Linked DNA regions of Homo sapiens: region 1 is linked to region 2. A link means that fine-mapping ties the variant in region 2 to the expression of a gene that starts in the linked region. Tissue or cell type: whole blood. Region 2 holds a variant in brackets; the other region holds the start of a gene. All regions are shown on one strand. Distances are from middle to middle.

What was found. PIP is the estimated chance that this variant, and not a neighbour inherited with it, causes the effect.
Region 1: it holds the start of ZNF692, and the variant in region 2 is fine-mapped to the expression of ZNF692 in whole blood (TOPMed, PIP 0.98).

The regions. Positions count from the first base shown.
Region 1 is chr1:248,854,585-248,862,682 of GRCh38, forward strand. ZNF692 (zinc finger protein 692) reads right to left here and starts at 4,501. Exons shown (of 12, transcript NM_017865.4): 1 at 4,334-4,501; 2 at 3,547-3,737; 3 at 3,244-3,275; 4 at 2,650-2,913; 5 at 1,930-1,978; 6 at 1,704-1,838; 7 at 1,141-1,362; 8 at 974-1,051; 9 at 796-874. The coding sequence starts at 3,725. It overlaps ZNF692-DT (ZNF692 divergent transcript), which reads left to right and starts at 4,580. Exons shown (of 3, transcript NR_186117.1): 1 at 4,580-4,662; 2 at 8,045-8,098. RefSeq lists enhancers at 3,306-3,385, 3,986-4,035, 4,836-4,985 and a silencer at 4,196-4,695.
Region 2 is chr1:248,688,759-248,696,864 of GRCh38, forward strand. The region is part of intron 3 of OR14I1 (olfactory receptor family 14 subfamily I member 1); the gene reads right to left. Among named protein-coding and RNA genes, the nearest start is that of OR14I1, 10 kb to the right of the region's middle. The variant G/C (reference allele first, on the strand shown) is at 4,613.

The DNA.
Region 1 (8,098 bases), 170 kb after region 2:
CACTATTAAGGGTAACAGGCTCTTCAACCTTAACTCCTAAATATCAAAGTATTTCTCTTTTCACTGACCTAAGTTGGCATCCTGGCTCACTAAATTGCATGGGCTGTCCCCTTCTTTAGAATCCCATTTTTCCACAGTTAAACTTCCAGGGGCTGCTTTGATCTTCTCCACAGCAGACTCCAGAATGTCTGACATGCCCTGCCGAATGCTCTTCTCAGCCTAGAGCTTCCCTGTCATCCCGGGTCATTTTCCCTTTTCACTTGATTCCTCTCTGTCATCTTCTGTGGGCGGCATTCTCCCCTGTCTGTCTACCCTCACCTCACCATCCCAGTGTCTGTGGCCCTCCCCAGCCTTGGTACCTGCTGTGCCAAGTGCTCTGGTTGACTGTAGGGATTGGACCCCTTGCCTTCTGTGCCTCAAATTTCTCAGGCAATGAGATTGGGGACAGGACCATCTCCCAGCCCGTTTCACTCTAGAACTACCCTCTCAAGCCAGGATATGTGGCAGCCCAGGCATGGACTCTGAAGCCAGGCCACCAGGCTCAGAACCCTAGCACTAACACACACTAGCTGAAGAGCCTTGAGCAATGCCTAACCTTTCTGTCTGCAAAGTGGGAATAATAGCAGCACCTAATCTATGGGGATATTGTGAGGACCAAAAGACTTTATACATGTCAGGTACCCTCTGCTTCCTGGTTCTGAATCCTCCCATGCCTTAAGATCCTTTTCCTCAGTTTTTCTTTTAGCCCTTTCCCCCACCCCAGCAGCCACACAGGCCCCAACCTGTGCCCCTCACATTCAAATACTGCCGGTTGGAGAAGATCCTTCCACAGCCAGGGAAGTCACAAGGCATCAGCTCTCTTTTGGCAGCTTTCCTGAGGAGAAGAATGGAAAGGAGCAGCATGACTCCTGCCTGCCCTTCTCTGCCTCCCTCCTCTCGGCCCTCCCCAGAACCCCATCTCCCTAAGTCCTACCTAATTCTCTTGGGGCCAATTTGTGCAGTGTCCTCATCCCAGGCCGGGGTTGGAGCAGACTGGGCCTGACTCCCAGTGCTACGGGCAGCAAAGAGGGAGCAGAGGGCCTCGAGGGAGGGCCACATCCCAGGACGCCCCTGCCCTTTCTGTCTCAGCCATCAGGTTACCTGGCCAGGGCCTCAGTCTGCTGGGCCGCTTGAGGGGTCCTGCTGAGCTGTGGCTGCACCCTGACTTCTGCAGGTGGAGGAGCTCTGGAACTCAATGAGGATGCTGACAAGGCCGGCACAGCAAGAGGACTGGAGAGTGCTGCAGGGGCTGGTGGTGTCTCCCCCTCTTTAGGTGTGCAGGTGACAGGGGAAGGCAGTAGTCTGGGGGCATCAGGCTCACTACTGAAAGGAGAACAAAGAGGAAGATGGCATTAACTTTCTGGGCAGTCAGCCATCCCCTGCCCGACCCTAGCCCCTAAACTGAAAAGATCTCAAACTTGAAACAACCCTACCCCCACCCTAGGCTCCCCATTCATATCTGCTTTCAGCCCTCAATCTCCCTGCACCTGACTTCACCCCTTTTCACCCCCTCAGTTCAAAGCCTCTAGTTCTTTTTGCCTTCCCCAAAACCCACCCTTCCCTCCACACTAACAAGCCCTTCCCTCTAGTCTGCAAAGCCATGAACTGCCAGGCCAGCTGCCTCCCTCTCTTGCTCTGCTCATTCTCCCTCAACCCCAACTTGCTCATCTGGGGAGGAGCTGTAGGTCCATAAGCTGGCATCACTGAGCATCTCCTCTTCATCCTCATCATTGTCCTCTTCTTCCTCACCCTCTTCCTCTCCTGGAGGTGGGAAGGTCTCTGGTGGGGGTCCCACCCTCCTGCAGGCCCAAAGAAGGCAAGCCTGAGGTCCTGCTCCCTCATCCTCCCACCTATGCAATTCCGCCTTTTCTCTCCTATCCACATCCTCACCTGGGCAACCTGGCCTCTTGAGTCCTCTCATCATGCTCAGATTCCAAATCTGTGGGACAGGCAAAGTCAAAAGAGAAGGAACTCTGGACTCAAGGGATGAGGACACATAAAGTTCTAAGGTCTGAAGTGATGGGAGACTCCTCTTTTTTTTTTAAATAGAGACGGGGTCTCACTATGTTGCCCAGGCTGGTCTCAAACCCCTGGGCTCAAGCAATCCTCTTGCCTCAGCCTCCCAGAGTGCTAGGATTATAGGTGTGAACCACTGCACCCAGGCAGAGACTTTTAAGAAGGAGGAGGAGGGAGCAGAGGCTATCTGAGTAGGAGGAGTTGTTCTGTTTCAGAGATGATATTCACATAGTTCACAAAACTATACAGTCAAAAATCTCCTTTCCAATACTGTCCCCCATCGCCTACTTCTTCCCATAGGCAACCTGGTTTTCTATGTGCCTTCCAGAGATATGTCATACATTCGCAAGTACTTACACATACACACACACACATTCACTTTCCCCTTATTTGTATTTTTCACCAATGATAGCATACCATACACTGTATTTTGTTTTGCTTTTCATGCCCAACAGTGTATTTGATGATATATTTGTCAAGATAGAGTTTTTCCATTGAAAAAGGATCATTTTTAGAGAACAGGGTTCTGAGCTACAGAAAATGGGAAACGTTTTTCCTCCCTTTTCTCCATAACTCTGCTTTTTTCCAGCCTACCTGCAAGCTCCTGCCCACTCGTGGCCTCGGAACACCAACTTCTCCGAGTAGTATGTGGAAGGGAGGCTGGCTTGGGTGCCTCTGAAGGTGTAGGGCTCAAAGAGGGTCCCCAGGAGAAGGTATGGCCTGCTGAGCACTCCCACACAAGCCCCCCATCTTGGCCGCCAGGCCCCCGAAGCCCGGGCACCAGGCTGCACTCTCGGCTGTGGGCATGAGACAAGAGCACCAGATACTGCAGACCTTTTGGAGGCAAAGGCTCAGGACCTGGAGGGGTGGGGGAAGCAGTCAGGCTGAACTGGGAAGTCTCCTCCTCTTACCCTGGAGAGCCATACCCAGGGAGCCCTGTTCCCTCAAACCCCAGGGCAACCTCAGCCCCAGTCCAATTTATCATTCTTCAGAACCTAGACACACTAGATCCTGAGACATTGCTCCCTTCCCCACCCAGAGGTTGCCTCCATCAAACTACCCTGTGCTCCCCAACTCACCCCACCCTTCCCAAACTTACTCAGGGCTCCCTTTGAAAGGAGGGTGTTTCTGGGTCACCCTGTGGTCCCTCTTCCCTCTGGCTCTCACCCCCTGCCATCCCCTACCTACCTGCACAGAGGACACAGCCTGAAGAAGTGTACCTGCCAGCAGGAGAAGAGGCAGGTCAGGACTCAGGTGGCCAGCCACCCTCAGCCCTGGGCACTCACACATGTAAGGGGCCAGCCCTAAGGGCCGCTATTCGCTGAGACCATGAGGAGGGGAGCAGGACCCTCGGAGGCCACAAGTCACACAGGCCGTCCTGGTAAAGTGAGAAACCTGAGGGTGGAAAAGAGCAGCAGGACAGGCCCTGGAGAGGAGGCTAGGGGCTGCTGCCTGGGTACCCTCCCCCAAGCCCTTCTCCCGGCCCCTAACCGGTCCAACAGGAACTTGGCGAGCTGCGAGTGCAGGGAGAAGCCCAGCCGCTCCTTGAGGAGGCACCACTGCTCCATGTGGCCGCCCAGGCGGATGCGGCACTTGCTGCGGCGCGCGTCCAGCTGCCGCCGCTTCTCCCGCCGCCTGCAGGACACGTCCACCGCCGGGGAGGAAGCCATGTGCACCAGAGGCTGGAGGGTGGAAGGGACGTCTTCAGCGCCCTGCCGATCTCGGGGGTCGGGGACCCGGCTCCACCTGCCGTTAGGGCCTCAGTTTCCTCATCAGTGAACTGGGGCAAGACTAAACTATTTCAATAGCAGTGGCAGGTGTGGAGCCAAACCCCGTCCTTCTATGATACAGGGTGTTGAAGCTCAGCGCTACCATGTGAGTGTCGTCGGGTGGGAGGCAGGCAGACAGAAGCAGTCAGAACAAAGGCCTGCGCCCTCCAGTCCACTGAAGTGGAGCTGTGGGGAAGGGGCGAGAGACTTTCACGGGAAATTTCAACTGGGCTGGGGGCGGTCCACACATTTCATCTTGAATAGGGCAGCGGCCTTTACTGGTTTCTAGGGGAAGGAAAGGTCGTGTCCTGGCGTGCAGCTGGGGGCGCTCTTCATAGTTGGGTCGAGTGGCGGTGAGGCCGTGGTCAGAGGTCTGGAGGGCGCCCCCCATCCACCCCGTCTTGGGCACCCCCACTTAATGCTGACAGTGAGTGGAGCGGACTAATCCCAATGGCAGTTCCCAGGCTGCCCAGAGCCCCCGTCGCGACCCACCCCCACCCCGGCCTTACCTGTGCGCCCCCACGCGCCCTCACCCCCACTGCGCCTGCGCCTGCGCCTCCCGGGCCTAGCGAGCAGGCCCGGAGCTGCTGGAAGACAGGGGCCCACCTCGCGCGCGCAGCGTTTCTCTTTTAAGAAGAAACGGTGCCTCTCGGCGTCGGCTGCTGTAGCCCGGAACTGAGGCCCGCGCCCCAGAGGGAGGGGCGAGTCGGAGGCCGACGCCGTGCGCCTGCGCACTGGGTGCCCCGCGCAACGCCCGCCGGGAATCGTGGTTGCCCGACTCAAGTCGCCCGCGCGTGTCGCGGAGCCCCGCGGCAGTTGTGGTTGGGTGGCTTCTGTGGTGAGCGTCTGCGCTTGGTGACCAAAGGTTTGAGGGAAAGTGGAAGAGACAGGGTCAGGCCTCCTGTGCTCCAACCCCAGCCCACCCGGCCTGTATGGGGACGTTGCCTCTTCACTTGTTCCCGTTTTGTATTCACCTTCGATTTCCCCCTCACAGTTGCCACCCGCAAACATGATGCAGAATCAGTCACTTTGAAAGACCCACAGAGGGTCCAGCTAGAGCCCTCTGTGGACCGCAGAGTCCCACCAGCTACAGCCCACTTCTATTACCATCAGAATTCCTCCTAAAAGTTGCCTGCATTCTCTGTGTACGCTCACTTCCCATCCTCTTCTCTTCAAATGGCTCTGATGGAGCTTTCCTCCCCACCCAGCCACTGCAGTGGCGCTTCACAAGGTCACTTGAGACGGTCATATTGCTACATAGCAGCTGTCAGTTCCGTCCGCCTCTCTGCCCTAGAAAGAGCGCGACTATGTAGCTCTCGTCCTCCTCATCTTTATGGCTCCCTCTACATTTTGGGCCCCAGTTTTACTTCTGTGACTTCATATGCTCCAGGTTTTCCACCCTCCTCACTGGCTCCTTCTATCCTTTTTTTGGATCCATTCCCTCTGTTCTGCCAAAAGATGAAGTGTGCCCTGGCTCAGGCCTTGAACCAGATCTTCTCTCGTCTGCATATGTTCTCCTGGGTGATCTAATTAGTTCCATGGCTTTAAATACACTGATGGCTCCTAGCCTAGCCCTCTTTCAACTCCAGTCATATATCTTACTGCCCGCTTGACTTACATGTGTTAACTGAGCTAACACGTGTAAAGAATGTAGGACAGTGCCTGGCATGTAGAGAGCGCTGACACATGATAGCTGATATTTTCTCCAACATAAATATGGCAAACATATAACAATAACGCCTGTACCCTCCCCCATGCCAGTAAACTATGTCATCATCCACCCACTTGTTCAGAAAAAAGGGAATCAGCCTTGATTCTTTGCCTTTTATGATACCTAAACCATATACATCAGCAAATCTTGTTGGTCCTGTCTCCAAAAATTTATCTTAAATCCAATCACTTCTGACCCTCTCAACTGCTAAAACCCTACTCCAAGCCACTGGTATTAATTTTCTGTAATTGTTGTAACAAATTGTGTTGTGTGTTGTTTTCAGCCACAAACTTGCTCCCTTTACTCAAATTTATTTTCTCACAGTTCTGGAGGCCAAGGCATCAGCAGGGCCACAGGCCATTGTAAGGGCTCTAGGGGAGAATCCTTTCCTTGCTTCTTCTAGCTTCTAATGGTGGCCAGCATTCTCTGACTTGTGGCCACGTCACTCCAATCTCTGTCTCTGAGGTCACATTGCCTCCTTCTGTGTCAAATCTCCCTCTGCTTCTCTCTTACAAGGATGCTTGTGAATGCATTTAGAGTCCATCCTTATAATCCAAATAATCTCTCCATCTCAGTATCCTAAGACAATTTCTTCTGTAAAGTATTTGCCATATAAAGTAATCGGCTGCACACGGTGGCTCACGCCTGTAATCCCAGCACTTTGGGAGGCCAAGGCGGGTGGATCACTTGAGGTCAGGAGTTTGAGATGTGCCTGCCCAACATGGTGAAACCCTGTCTCTACTAAAAATACAAAAAAAATTAGCTGGGCATGGTGGCATGGGCCTATAATCCCAGCTACTCGGGAGGCTGAGGCAGAAGAATTGCTTGAACCCAGGAGGAGGAGGTTGCAGTGAACCGAAATTGCACCACTGCACACCAGCCCGAGTGACAGAGCAAGACTCCATCTAAAATAAAATAAAGTAATCTCCACAAGTTTTGGGGATTAGGACACAGATATCTTTTCTGGGACTATTTTTAAGCCTACCATACCACTATCATCTCTCACCTGGTCTGTGGCTACATCTTCCTAATGGATCTGCCTCCTACTTTAACTTGTACTCTCACAAAGCAGGGAAAATTTCCTCAAAGATCAAATCTTTTGCTTAAAATCTGTGAGTGGTGCAATCCAAAATCCTTATCATGGCCTCAAGGACCTACTTAATTGGGCCCTTGGCTTCTTCTCTGGCATCATCCCCCAACTTTTCCCACTTTGTCCTCCCACCTTTTTGCTATTTCTCAAGTGTGCCAAGTATCCTAGAGGGAGTTCTTTTGTCTCTGGAGCACTCAATTCTCCCCTCAGCCCCCACCCCATCCCCCAGCCCACCACCCAGCTGTTCATCTGTTTGCTCCCTTCTCATCTTGTAAATCTCGGCTATAAGATCACCCACTCAGCTATAAAATCCCTCATTCAGAAAGCTCCCTTTCCTCAGTCATGCTCTACCTCACTGTGCCCTATTGTATCTTCTTCATGGCACTTACTTTCTGAAATCATCTCAGGGACTTGTTTGTGTGTTTGTTATTGGTATACGATGATTGTTGACTAGCCCAGCCTTCTCCTCTGCAGCCTAAATATCTCAAATGACATGGTGTGCAAACATGAACACCCTTAGGATGAGCCCAGTGTGTCCTGTGCATATTCCTTTTGATTTGTGGTATCAGTGACTCAACATACTTGTCTGACTAGTGTAAGGTAGGAAGGAAGATGTCCCAGCTACTTTACTCATTAATGAATGTGTAACTTTTCCAGCTACTTTACTCATTAATGAAAGTGTAACTTTCACATCAAAAGAGCAGGACTCCATCGAGAACAAACTTTATCCTTTCCTCATGGTCCCTTAATAGATATCTGCAAAATCCTTGTGGTTTCATCCAAGGGAATGAAAGGTCTTGTAATTCTTGGTTACTCTTAGAATGTTGGGTCTCACTTTGAGACCCAAGAACATTTTTGGTTCTCTTGGTTTGATCTTGTTTAAAATAATAAAATGAAATTACTGCCAATGCCCAGCTCTTCAATAACCGTCTCCAAATAAATCTCTCAGCCTCTCTTTAATTTCTTATATCATCTAGGTAAGGAATGAGCCAACTCTCTCAAAAACAGTCACCAGCCCCTTCCTTTGTAAGTGCTGCAAGGGAGTGCTAACATTTTAAGGAGGGGTTCTCTGTAAACATTGGTTCTCTGCCTTTAGTGACCTCATTGCAGTCTGAGACCTTGAATTCCATCTTAGCATCCCATTACAAAGGCTAAGATTAAATGTGAGCTATTTGTATTTTTGTCACTGTTGAGCTTTACAGTTTACAGACTGCTGAAACTGCCAATTCTTTTATACACATAAAAGGGTCCATGTGGAGGACATATTTATCTTCATAACATTTATTTTTCCTGGACTATGCATGGCACCATAGCGCTCTTCTTATCTCCTGCTTTGGCACAGCCAAATCTAATATTGCTGTACCCTCTGAACTTTTAGTATCTTCTCTCCAAAGAGAAAAACTACTTTCCACTCTCCAGATCCAAGGAGGAATGAGCCAAATTGCTACAGAAGTTGAGTCAACCCACTGCCCT
Region 2 (8,106 bases):
AGGTGTTTCAGTTGACTGCAGGGTTCCCATGGGAGAAGCAGGATTAAAGAGAGAAAACAGAAAAGACTCATTCTTACAAATGTTTTTCTAAATATGATTCAACTGTCAGTCAGATAGCTTCAGGTATGGGGACTTCCACATTTGATTTGAAACTTCCATTTTTTTTCTCTGGGGGATTGGTTGATTATTGCCCAGGGAGTGTAGCCCTTGGGGGCTTTCTCTAGTAGGTAGACAGGCCAGGTCCATCAGATGACTGGTATAGAAATGAAAAATTTCTTATGCAAAGGCCTGACTATTTAAAATACAGGTAAACTTCTTGGGACACGCGGTCCTTTACTTTTGAGGCAACTCCTCTGGGGTTCAAAATAGCTACAAGGAGGTCTTCTCAGTCCCCATAGCTGGCGTATTATAAAGGCATGCACCTCTTTGTCCTTTGTAAAAAGTCTCCCCACTGTGGCCTTTGTAACTTAAAATTACCTTTGGTCAGGTTCACTCATTTTTCTAGAAAAACACATGTTCTGGGTCCATGGTTCTTATACATAAAATATGCTGCAGTCCCACATGGAAGAGTTCTAGAGCCCTTGGATTCAAAAAACACATGATATGCTGTCTTCCAGGAACCTTACCTACCAGAGGCCTCCTACTGGACCCAGTCTGGTTTCTTTACCAGATCCATTCCAATTCTGAACCCAGTCCAGTCAACAAATTGCTCAAACAAAGTTAGAGCTCAAAACATAAATTTGCAGAGTTTGAATCCAAGAGGAAATTTACCCATAATCTTCAGTTGCAGCGTGAGAGCAATGGGCCCTAGTGGGTATCTACACTTGGGCATTCCTTGTTCCGGGGGGCCACTGGGTATCCTTCAAATCTTACTTCTAACACCAAATAGTTAAAAGAAAAACTTTACCAATGAGACAGAAAATTAACAGGCCTATTCAGGACTTGAACTCAGCTCTGGACCAAGCAAACCTAATAGACGTCTACAGAACTCTCTACCTCAAATCAACAGAATATACATTCTTCTCAGCACCACATAGCACTTATTCTAAAGTTGACCACATAATTGGAACTAAAACATTCCTCAGCAAAGGCAAAACAATGGAAATCATAACAAACAGTCTTTCAGACCACAGTGCACCAAATTAGAACTCAGGATTAAGAAACTCACTCAGCACCACACAACTACATGGAAACTGAACAACCTGCTCCTGAATGACTACTAGGTAACTAACAAAATTAAGGCAGAAATAAATAAGATATTTGAAACCAATGAGAACAAAGACACAACACACCAGAATTTCCGGGACACAGCTAAAGCAGTGTTTAGAGGGAAATTTATAGCATTACATGGCCACATCAGAAAGCAGGAAAGATCTAAAATCGACACCCTAACATCAAAATTAAAAGAACTAGAGAAGCAAGAGCAAATAAATTCGAAAGCTAGCAGAAGACAAGAAATAACTAAAATCAGAGTAGAACTGAAGGAAATAGAGAAACAAAGAAGCCTTCAAAAAAACAATGAAATCAGGAGCTGGTTTTTTGAAAAGACTAACAAAATAGATAGACCACCAAGCTAGGCTAATAAAGAAGCAAAGAGAGAAGAATCAAATAGACATAATAAAAAATGGTAAAGGGGATATCACCACTGATCCAACACAAATATAAACTACCATCAGAGAATACTATAAACATCTCTATGAAAATAAACTAGAAAATCTAGAAGAAACGGATAAATTCCTGGACACATACACCCTCCCAAGACTATACCAGGAAGAAGTCGAATCCCTCAATAGACCAGTAACAAGTTCTGAAATCCAGGCAGTAATTAATGGTCTACCAACCAAAAAAAAAAAAAAAAAAAAAAAGCCCAGGAACAGACGGATTCACAGAGGTACAAAGACTAGCTGGTACAGTTCCTTTTGAAACTATTCCAAACAACAGAAAAAGAGGAACTGTTCCCTAACTCATTTTATGAGGCCAGCATCACCCTGATACCATAACCTGGCAGAGACACAACCAAAAAAAAAAAAAGAAAGAAAATTTCACACCAATATCGCTGATGAACACTGATGTGAAAATCCTCAATAAAATACTGGCAAACTGAATCCAGCAGCACATCAAAAAGATTATCCATCACGATCAAGTAGGCTTCATCCCTGGGATGCAAGGCTGGTACAACACATGCAAATCAATAAACACAATCCATCACATAAACAGAACCAATGACAAAAACCACATGATTATCTCAATAGATGCAGAAAAGGCCTTTTTTAAGGCTGAGTAATATTTCATCTTAGGTAGATATCACATTTTCTTTATCCATTTATCCCTTGATGGATATTTAGGTTGCTTCCAAAAAGAATTAGAGCTTCTGCAGCTGCCAGAAAGTAAGCCATCAAAACAGCAGTTGGGTAACAGGAAGAATTCTAACACTCTTGAGCTCATAGGTAGAAGGGACCCTTCATTCATTCAACACACACTAACAATGCATTTATGTCCCAGGTACAGTGCTAAAGGCTGGAAGTATGTGGATCATGCATACATACACAGTCCCTGTCCTTTCAAAGTGTTCAGTCTCAAGGAGGTGTGAGTATGTTAGAAAATATTCTGAGGTGCCAGAATTGCACTAGATGCATTGATGACTTGGAGGGTATTGGTAGGGTAGAATGTTCCCGTCAGAGAATTAAGTATATAGGTACCCTTTCCTCAAAAATGCTTAGACTAGGTAGGGAAGAGGGTGAGGCACAATAGCATATCTTTAATTGGGTGGGGTGAGAACCAAAGAATCGGAAAAACAGACATTCCAGCTCCTCCAAGTTCTTCCAATCGTCAGAACTGTGGAACTAGCCCACCAGGCTTTCTCCAGTCACGTGAGCCGGGAGCCACCAGGATCTCATTGGCCAAGGCTCCCAGAGGGCGGGAAGAGCGGGAAGTGAGGACCAATGGGGCAGGCCAAAGGGACTGTGGAGGCCGACGCATGCGCAGTGCCCTCCGGCCTAGCCCGGCCAACCCGCCTGTCCCGGACCGCCCGGCGTCAGGTACGGGTTCACCAAGCCACCCCGCCCACCTCAGGACGCAGCTGCCGGTCCAGCTGCTCCCGCGGGCCCACAGCGCGCTGTGGAAAGGAGCGGACAGGCCAGAGGCTCTCTCGGGCCTACAAGTCTCTAGGCTAGGCAGTGTTTCCGAGTCCCAGGTGCCTCCAGAGGCCGAGCTCACAGCGCGGCCCACCCAGCATCCGGGGGCGCTGTGAGGGGCGCTCGCCCAGCAGCGGAAAGGCCATTCGCGTGGCGCGGGAGCGCGGGCCCGGCCGCCTGGGCGTGTCCCTTTCGCGGAACTGAGCTCACTGGCTCCTCTCTTCCAGACGGAGCGACGGGGCCGGCCGCAGCCTCAGCCACGCGTCCCTCGGTGGCGGGCAGGCTCCTCTTGGCCTGCAGCCTTACTTTCATGCCCTTCTTCACAGGTGAGCGGATGGCTTGGGGTCCTCCCGCATTTCCCGCAGCGTCGCTCTCTGCATTCCCGCATTCCCAGGTTCCTGCTGCATTCGTGAATTCCCTCCTGCATTCCTGTACTCTCCACTCTTCCAGCCTGCATTCCCACATTTCCACCCTCATTCCTGCATTCCCAACTGCATCCCCCAACGTTGCCACTTTCTCCCCATCGTTCCCACCTGCGTTTCCGCATTCCCACATCCCTGCTCTGATTCCCACCCGCATTTCTGAATCCCCACCTGCTTTCTCTACCCCAGTCCAGCCTTTATTCCGGCATTTCTGCCTTCATTCTCGCGTTCCCAGCCACATTCCCCTTTGCATTCTGCAGACCTCCAATCACCTTTCTTTGTTGGGCAGTGTACTCATCAGCACGGCATAAGGAAAGAGCAGACACGGCTCCTGCCCTCATAATGCTTACAGTCTACAGAACAGTGCTGGGGACACAGTCCTGAGTGTTGCCTTCTGATCAACCACTTAACTGACTGCCTGGCCTCAGGAAAGCAGCTGAGCTTATCTGTTCTTAGGTATCCTTATTAGAGTACTAAGAATATTGGTTCCTGCCTATTATAGTTGTAAGGAACATGTGAGCTAGTAAAGGGCTGACACAATGCCTGGCATGTAATAAGCTCTCATTAAAGAGAGCTTTAATGTTTGTCTGTCTTTCTCCAGAGACCACTTCATGTTGGGAGAATTGTGGGGAGAGAAAATGTTCACCAGTGAAACGTGAATCATGAGCCCTCATCCAAGTAGTTCTACTTCCCCGATTTCCCTGAAGGTTATAGGGTACTGTGTGAGCAGCCTCTAACTCTCCCTGGTTGTTCACAGAAGTAAGATGTTCTGGGTCTGCTTATCGGGAGGAGTCATTCAGTTAGTGCCACATAATCATTTTAACATTTCTCCCATTGCTGCCAGGGCATCCTGCATCACCTCCCAAGCCAGCCTCCCACGTCACCTGGGTGGTGTACTAATTCACGGCCAGGAGCACTGACTGTTCCTGCTCCCACGTCACCTGGGTGGTGTACTGATTCACGGCCAGGAGCATTGACTATTCCTGGCCACCTCCTTGCACCTTTCCTGGTTCCCTCAGCCTCTCAAAGTTCTCATCTTTCCTTTGATGAGAAAGA[G/C]AAGGGCAGACTGAAAATAGACTCACCACCCACCTGTCCTTTCCCCCTGCCCCATACTGGTGGACCAGCATCACAGTAAAAATAGTTACCACTTAGTAAGAATTCATTATGAGCCAACTTAGGATTTTTGATAAGATAAAAGAGTTCAGCATAATTTTACATAAAATTAGTTTTTTCTTGATATATTTTCTTCTCTTCTGCTTTCCACACCTAATAAAACATTACAGAAAGTCTTGTTTTATTTATTTTGAGGACAGGCCTTAGGTAAAATGTGGAAGTTTATCTTGGAGCTTCCAATCTTCAAGTTCTCTTCTCCTTTCCCCATCCTCTGTCTTCTCCACTCTATCCTATCTTATCTCCTCTAGAGCCCAAACCCAGCCCCACTGATTTTTCTCAATCAAAGCTCATTTAAAAAAAAAAAAAGGATGGGAAAATCGTCGTTCCTCTCACTATGAATAGCTAAGAACAGTGCTATTAACTTGCCTGGTATGCTCTGCATTTTAACAGAAATCAAAGTCCAGAACTTTTTAAAAAAAAAAAAAAAAACCATTTACTGGAATATTGGGCTTAAGAGTGTTTGTGCATTTGGTTGAGAGGGCAGGAAGACCTATCAGTCTGCATGTGGCACACACTCTAATAATTTTCTTCAAGTTCACATGCCATTGCCTTGGGACATCAGGGCCCCAGCCAGGCACTGGAGGGGCAGAGGGAGGCATGTGGGCAACTTTGAGGGGAGTGGGAGAAAGTGATACTTAATCTCATACTTAACCAGGTGACCACTTGTTTCCTCAAAAGTGCCCTCCTTTGCTCTGCTGATCAGAGATTGCTTAGTGGTTATGATTAGTAGTGAAGTTTGTTTGAATATAATATTTTCTGTAACAAGCCTTTTTTTTCGGGAGCAAAAACAAATTTTAAAACTTTTTTTCATATATTGTCCCATTTTAAAAATTTACTTACATTTGTTTTTAATTGTGTAACTGTAAAAATAAATAATATATGCCTATGACGTATATTATCCTACCCTCTTCAGCCCCCAACACAACTCCTGTTTAGCAACCATAGTTATTCCTTTCTTGTTTACCTTTCCAGAAATGGTCTGTTACTTACAAACATATCCAAATGCATCTTTTCTTTCCATTGGCAGCATTTTATATCAAATGCTCTACATCTTGTTTTTTTCCCCTTAAAAGTACATCTTGAAGAGCTTTTCATTTCATCAGAATATGGCCATATTCTGTCTATGGTGGTATTCATCTCTGTTTCATGGATATGACAGAATCTATCTAACCATGAGAATTTCAGTCACTTCTGATCACTTCTTATCACAGAGGATGCTACAATGAATGACCTTGTACAAATGCATGTAGGAAAATACCTAGGAATTGCTGGATAAAAGAGCTTGTGCAAATTGTTCTCAAAAAGAAGTATTACTAATTTACCCACCAGAAATAGATGAGAATACCTGTTGCCCCTCATTGCAATTTTAATTTACATTCATCATTACCTTCTGCAGTGATCAAAATGTCTATGCCTGTGCTGTCCAGTACAGTGGCCACTAGCCATGTGTGGCTATCCAGCATTTGAAATGAGACTGGTGTGACTAAGGAACTGAATTTTTAATTACATTTTATTTTAATTAATTTTAAATAGATACATTGGACAGAGTAGCTTCAGAGCAGAGTAGGGTATGAAAGAGTTTGGAAAGAGACAAAAGGGGATATGAGACATATTGCTGAGAAATTATGAATTGGAAGGTCTCTCTAACGTTAACCATTGAAATTTTCGTTATTTTGTCTTTTAATTTTCAAAATTACTTTTTAAAGTGATAAGTTTTTACGAATTACTTTTGAATGTATGCTTTTTTTTTTTTTTTTTTTTTTTGAGAGGGAGTCTCGCTCTGTCGCCCGGGCTGGAGTGCAGTGGTGCAATCTCGGCTCACTGCAAGCTCTGCCTCCCAGGTTCACGTCATTCTCCTGCCTCAGCCTCCCGAGTAGCTGGGACTACAGGCGCCCGCCACCACGCCCAGCTAATTTTTTGTGTTTTTAGTAGAGACGGGGTTTCAACGTGTTAGCCAGGATGGTCTCGATCACCTGACCTCGTGATCCACCTGCGTCTGCCTCCCAAAGTGCTGGTATTACAGGTGTGAGCCACTGCGCCCGGCCGAATCTATGCGTTTTTAAAATTACATTTGGATTGTGCTTCCTCAAACAAGACTCTCCAGAGAAAGCAAGCCTGGTTAGCCCTGGATCTCTAATGGTTGTAGTGGTGGAGAGGCATGTGGGCGTCTCTAGTCTCTGCTTCTCCTTCTCTTCATGGCAGCACCCAGCTCCCAGGCCTCAGCACTGCCTTCCCAACCCCTTCTCCTACCCCGGGTGGAGGGCCAGCTGCCCTCACATTTGCAGGGCCCATGGTAATATGTCACAATACTTAAAAGAAATACAGTAAGCTAAAAACAATAATAAAATATTTTCCATCCTTTTACTTACACAAATGTGTCCTCAGAATGACCTAAAAGGTTTGGAATGTTCGCAAGAGTTTCATGCCAGAGAATTGCAGCACTGAGAAATCTGGATCCTGGTCTCCAGCCCATCTCCTTTCCCCATTCCACACTCCCCTTCAACTGTGAAGGCCATCGCGATCATGTGTGTGGACACGCCAATGCTGAAGTTTAAACTCCCCACTCCCACCACCTCTGACAACTGCTAGGTTAGATCTCAGTCTGTTTGAGCAAGAAATCCCAGGATTCTTGGTAGCCAGGCAAAGTGGGGAAAGGGCATACAGGATCTGGGTGGGCATGTCCCCTTGGTGTCACATACTACTCATCCCATAGGGGCTAACAGAGGCAGAAGAGGCCCTGGTCTGGGGGAGGTGAACAAATCAAAACTACCTTTTGATAGCCTAAGGAGAATTCTTCAGGGAAATACCATGGCTTTTACTCCTTTTTTCCCCTTGCTCTTAATTTTCCACAGATTTCCACCTCTTTATTCATAGTCCCCACCATTCTCTGCTCTGTGCCTGGACATCTTTTACTGGAACAGCCAAGCCCAGTCTTTGCCCATGACAGCAGGTGGCAGCAAGAACACTTGAATGGAAGCGGGGAATCAGTCGACTTCTGTTCACTAGGACATTATTATGGAGCCCCAGAGGCAGATAGTGCAGAAGAAGCTAAGGCTCTTTCTTGTTAGGGCCCCTTCTTTGAGTATCCTGTGCATTCTGCCACCCGTGACCTTTACTTGTAAGACCACATTTTTCTGTGTAAGTGTTTGGAAGTAGACCTTTTTCAGGCCTCCACTCAAAAAATGTCCCTTTTTCTGTGAGGCCTTTCCTGACCAACCCCGTGAATTATCCCTACCCTGCACATCCTGTCCTGTTTTGTCTCTCTCCGTAGTATTTATCATCATCTGACATATCATATTTTTTTCTTCTTTGTTTTTTTCTGCTTCCTCCATCTGAAAATGAGCTCCATAATGGCAGGGATTTTTATAGTAACTCTA